Linked DNA regions of Homo sapiens: region 1 is linked to region 2. Evidence: fine-mapped expression QTL. A gene starts in region 2. The other region holds a variant in brackets. All regions are shown on one strand. Distances are from middle to middle.

Region 1 (2,907 bases), 32 kb before region 2:
GGATTACAGGCGTGAGCCACCGCGCCCAGCCTAGATTTAAGTTTTTAACACAATTTGATTTGGTTTTTATATATGGCAAGAGACATGGGTCTGGTTTCATTCTTCTGCATACGGATATTCAGTTTTTCCAGCACCATTTATTGAAGAGACTGTCCTTTCCTCAATGTATGTTCTTTGCACCTTTGTCGAAAATGAGTTCACTGTAGATGTATGGATTTGCTTTTGGGTTCTCTATTCTGTTCCATTGACCTGTGTGTCTGTTTTTATGCCAGTACCATGCTGTTTTGTAGTATAATTTGAAGTCAGGTAATGTGATTCCTCCAATTTTGTTATTTTTGCTCAGGATAGCTTTGGCTAGCTATTCTGGGTCTTTTGTGGTTCCATATATATTTTAGAATTGCTTTTTCTATTTCTGTGAAGAATGTCATTGGTATTTTGATAGGGATTGCATTGAATCTGTAGATTGCTATAGAAACTATGGACATTTTAACAATATTGATTCTCCCAATCCATGAACATGGAATATCTTTCCATTTGTTTGTGTCCTCTTCAATTTCTTTCATCAATGTTTTATAGTTTTCATTGCAGAGATCTTTCACTTCATCAGTTAATTCATAGGCATTTTATTTGTAGCTACTGTAAATGAGATTACTTTCTCAATTTCTTTTTCAGATTGTTCACTGTTGGCATACAGAAATCTTACTGATTTCTGTATGCTAATTTCATATCCTGCAAATTTACTGAATTTAATGGTTTTTTAGTGGGGTCTTTATGTTTCCCCAAATATAAGATCAAATCATCTGCAAACAAGCATAATTTGACTTTTTCCCTTTCCACTTTGGATGCTCTTTCTTTCTCTTGTCTGACTGCTCTTGCTAGGACTTCCAGTAATACACTGAGTAACAGTAGTGACAGTGGGCATCCTTGCCATGTTCCAGATCTTAGAGGAAAGGCTTTCAGTCTTCCCCATTCAGTGTGATACTAGCTGTGGGTCTGTCTTAAATGGCTTTTATTGTGTTGAGGTATGTTCCTTCTATACCCAGTTTATTGAGTTTTTATCATGAAGGAATATTAAATTTTATTAAATGCTTTTTGAGCATCAATTGAAATGATCATATGGTTTTTCATTCTTGATACGATGTATCATACTGACTGATTTGCATATGTTGAACCATCCTTGCATCCCTGGGATATATCTCATTTGATCATGATCAATTTTCCTTTAATGTATTATTGAGTTCAGTTTGCTAGTATTTTGTGGAGGATTTTTGCATCAGTATTCATCAGGAATACTGGTCTGTAGTTTTCTT[CT/C]TTTTTTTTTTGATGTGTCTTTGGTCTTTGGTATCAGGGTACTGCTGGCCTCACAGAATGAGTTTAGGAATATTCCCTCCTCCTCTATTTTTCAGAATAGTTTGACAGCAGTGGTATCAGTTCTTCTTTAAGTGTTTGGTGGAATTCTGCAGCAAAGCCATTAGGTCTTGGACTTGGCTTTGCTAGGCGATATTTTATTACGGCTTCAATCCTGTTATTTGTTATTGCTCTGTTCAGGTTTTGGATTTCTTCAAGGTTCAATCTTGATAAGTTGTATGTGTCTATGAATTATGCATTCCTTCTAGATTTTTCAATTTATTGGTATATAGTTGTTCATAGTACCCATGAATAATCTTTTTAATTTTTTCAGTATTAGCTGTAATGTCTCCTTTTTCATCTTTGATTTTGAGTCTTTTCTATTTTTTCCTAAGTCTATCTAATGTTTGTTGATTATCTTTTCACAAAACCAACTTTTCATTTTGTTGGTCTTTTGTATTGTTTTCTTCATTTCAATTTATTTCTGCTCCGATCTTTATTATTTCTTTTATTCTACTAATTGTGGGTTTGGTTTGCTCTTGCTTTGTCAGCTGCATAAGGTACATCATTAGGTTATCTAGCTGAAGATTTTTTTTTCTTGTTTGATGTAGGTACTTATAGCTATGAACTTCCCACTTCGTACTGCTGTCGTTGTATCTCATGGGTTGTTGGTATGTCATGTTTCCATTATCATTTGTTTTAATAAATTTTTCAATTTCCTCCTTAATTTCTTCATTAACCCACTAGTCATTGTGGAGCACATTGTTTAATTTCCATGTGGTTATATAGTTTCCAAAATTATTCTTGTTATTGATTTCTAGTTTTATTCCATTGTGATCAGAGAAGATACATGCTATTATTTCAGGGGTTTTTTTTAATGTTTTAAGACTTGCTTTGTCACCTGACATATGGTCTATGCTTGAGAATGATCCATGTGCTGAGGAAAGGAATGTGTATTCTGGAGCCACTGGATGAAATGTTCTGTAACTACCAGGTCCATTCGGTCTATAGTACAGATTAAGAGTGATGTTTCTTCGCTGATTTTCTGTTTGGAAGATCCTATCTCTCTTTTTAGCTCTAATATTTGCTTTACATATCTGGGTGCTCCAGTATTGGGTACATATATATTTACAACTGTTATATCTTCTTGCTAAATTGACCTCTTTATCATTATACAATGACCTTCTTTGTCTCTTCTAAAAGTTTTTGTCTGATATATGCATAGCTACTCCTGTTCTTTTTTGGCTTCCATTAGCATGGAATATCTTTCTCCATCCTTTTTTTTTTTTTCAGTCTATGTGTGTCTTTATAGGTGAAGTGTGTTTCCTGTAGGCAACAGGTCACTGGATCTTGTTTTTTTCAATCCAGTCAGCCACTCTATGTCTTTTGATTGAAGAGTTTAATCCATTTACATTCAATGTTGTTACTGATAAAGACTTACTCCTGTTATTTTATTTTTGGGTGTGTGGTCATCTCTTCCTTCTTTCCTTCCTTCCTGTCTTCCTTTTAGTGAAGGTGATTTTCTCTGGTGGGGTGTTTTAATTTCTTGCTTTTTATTTT
Region 2 (2,907 bases):
AAAGCAAAAGTGACCTTCCAGCATATGCAGTGCTTTTAAACTACCCCGGGAAGCCGATCCCCGTGGAGGCTCCACTTCAAACAGCGGAGAACAGCAAATGCCTGCTGGCCAGAGAGCCTCGCCCGCCAGGCCGGGGCCCCAGGGTTCGAAGTTAACGGTCAGTCTGGAATCTCGGCCTCAGCAGTGGGACCACCCGGAGGGGTGGGGGTACATGTTCGAAAGAAAAGGACTCACTTAAATGGAGAAACCCGGATTAGGAAAGAGAGAAAGCAGCGGCAGCAGACACGGGTGAGTTAGGCGTTAGGCAAATGTTTGCCCACGAGGGGAGGACAGAACGGCCTCATCCACCCAGTGCCCAGAGTAGACATTCAGTATCCATCTGTAGGATTAAAAAGACAAGGACACAGCCTCGGCCCCTGGGAAAGCTGGGGAAGGGCGCAGCGGGGAGACTGATGACAAGCCGGGTGCATCCGTCACTCCCACCCTGGTCATCCAACCCCGGATCGCAGTGCACACCCCACGCACCTCCCGGGCCCGGTCCTCGCTTTTCTGAAGACAGCACGACAGCCTCCTCGCCCCTCAGCCGGGGACGAGGCAGGACCCGTCAATCCTTAATTTGTTTTCCCTTGGGGTGGGGAGGCGGTGACTATTCCAACTTCTTTTCGGCCGCCCCGTGGGAAAAGCAGGCCAAACCCTAAGGCTAGGCTAGAAACAAATCCCCCGCAAATTTGCAAACGGGCGGGGCTGGCGACAAGCGGCTGGAGGGCTCAAAGCTGGTGCAGACTAAACAATCACACACGCACAAGGCTCTGCAAAGCTGCAGGGGCGTCCCCGCCTCCCCCTCGGTGCAGCCCCGAGAATGCACTTTGCAGCGGGCAGCATTGCCATGCGCGCGCACACACACAAATGCACACCCGAAACTCTTGTGAAATGTCTGGGGGTCTCCTGCGTTAGAGGACGGACGAGCCCCGGCGGCCCCTCTGTCGGAAAGGCAACTCACACGCGCGCCCCCCACCTGGAGCCGGCGGCAAGTCGGTGACAAGCCCAAGACGAGGGCGGTCACGGCCCCTTGCGGGAGGGGGAAGGGGCGCAGCGGTCGCCCCAGCCGCGTTCCGCGTACGCATCTCTCCGAACCCCAAAGCCCCCCAGCTGCGCCCTTACCTTCCTCGGCGGCGGCTGCATGATGCTGAAGGGACATCAATCCTCCCCGACGGCAGCGTTAGCAAGGACCAGGAGGAGGAGGAGGGCCGGAGAGGAGGGGACGGCCCAGCGAGCGCGCGCGTGTGTGAAAGGAGCGCTTAAGAAGCAAGACTTGCCCCGGAGGGAGCAGGCCAGCGGGCGGCAGGCGGACCCCAGCCAGAGAGCGAGTGTGAGGAGACGAGGGAGGAGCACCGGGAAGGCTTGGGGCCCGGGCGGCCCGGGCGGCCCGGGGGTGTGTGAGGAAGGAGGCGGAGACGGCGAGGGGGCGGGGGCCCCAGGAGCAGGGGCGCGAGGGTCTCAGCCGGCCGGGCGGCGGGTTAGCCGCAGCCGCGTTGTCCGCGCTCCCGGTCGGCCGCCTGCGCCGCCGCTCCCGGCGGACGCAGCGGCCCCCACCCCACCCACTCAGGCGGCCCGGCCCTCGCTGGGCCTAACGCCCCCGCCCGCCCGGGAGGAGGAAGGTGGCGCCGCTCTCCCCGCTAGGGCTCCACCACTCAGGCCGCGGGAATTTCCGGCCTCGCCGCGCGGCGCAGCGCCCCGCTCCGGATGCTGAGGGAACCGCTCTGTCCAGAGCGGGGTTCGAGGGGCCGGTCCGGGCTGCCAGGAGGGAGCTAGGCCACGGCACGGGGCTTCGTACCGCGGCAGGGGAAGGGGGAAGCTAACGGATTGGTCGGTGGGTGGGAGGTGTAGAAACGCCAGCGCCACGCGAAAATCCCCCCTTTCTCTCCGAGAGTGGCACGTTCCAGACGCCTCCTGCCCTCCCTCCCCCACGCTGGGAGCCAGCCGGGGGCTTCCCGCGCGCTTTCCCGCCAGCTCGCCCCGGCGCGCGCGTCTCCGCTCGGGGGCGCGCACGTGGGCGGGAGAGGGCTCCGCGCCGACGCACGCGCACAGGCCGCCCCCGCCTCCTGCCTGCCTTTGCGTGTGTGTGTGTGTGTGTGTGTGTGTGTGTGTGTGTGTGTGTGTGTGTGTGTGTGTGTGTCGGGGGGCGCGGGGGACGACGCTCGCAGGGAAACGTTTGCAGTGGGGAGGGGGGCGCAGCATGCCTGTGGGATACGAGAATTCCGGCGTTTTCTTCCTCTCAGCCCCTCAACACCCTACTCTCCCTACCAGCTAGATGTGCGCGAGAGAGGCGAGCAAGGACAAGTCGCTTTGCGGCTGGCCGCAGGTGCCAGGCCATTGCGATTGTAGGGCGGAAAGGCAGTTGCTCTGCAAAGGAAACGGCGGCACTCTACTGCAGGGCATTCAAGTCAAACATCACTGACTCCGCTGAGAGGGAGCCAAGAGAACGTTAAGGCCGAGGCCCCCGTTTCACAGACGGGGAGGCAAGTGCCCATAGAGGGAAGCCTTTCTAAAGGTTACACAGCAGGACTAGAATCTGCGTCAGGAAGTGTTCTATGGGTTATTTTAAAAAAGAAACAGGTGCAGGATAATAAGCACGAGGAAAAGTAGAAGAGGCAGGAGAGGCCATAGAGGAAGCCCTTGTCTGGGAGTCAGGATCTCTGGGTGCCAGTCCACTTTGCCTGCTCCTTAACAGGCTAGGTGAGCTCGGCTTCCTTATCTGCCAGTGAGGGTGCTTATCTAAGCAGTGCACCCCACCACCACACATGAACCTTCCTGCTCTGTTCAGACCATCTACGGGGGAGTTTATCGACCTCCCTTGGGGTCCTCAGAAGAGGAATACCTCTTCCCCATGCCCAGGGAGGTTTTTTT

What was found. PIP is the estimated chance that this variant, and not a neighbour inherited with it, causes the effect. A credible set is the group of variants that fine-mapping cannot tell apart.
Region 1: its variant is the best candidate, but not a certain one, in a credible set for the expression of FCHSD2 in whole blood (INTERVAL, PIP 0.53).

What each region holds. Positions count from the first base shown.
Region 1 is chr11:73,108,840-73,111,746 of GRCh38, forward strand. The region is part of intron 2 of FCHSD2 (FCH and double SH3 domains 2); the gene reads right to left. Among named protein-coding and RNA genes, the nearest start is that of FCHSD2, 32 kb to the right of the region's middle. The variant CT/C (reference allele first, on the strand shown) is at 1,311.
Region 2 is chr11:73,140,696-73,143,602 of GRCh38, forward strand. FCHSD2 (FCH and double SH3 domains 2) reads right to left here and starts at 1,623. Exons shown (of 20, transcript NM_014824.3): 1 at 1,162-1,623. The coding sequence starts at 1,182. RefSeq lists enhancers at 1-220, 221-842, 342-571, 2,442-2,551, 2,632-2,771 and 1 more and silencers at 752-891, 1,292-1,671, 1,832-2,211.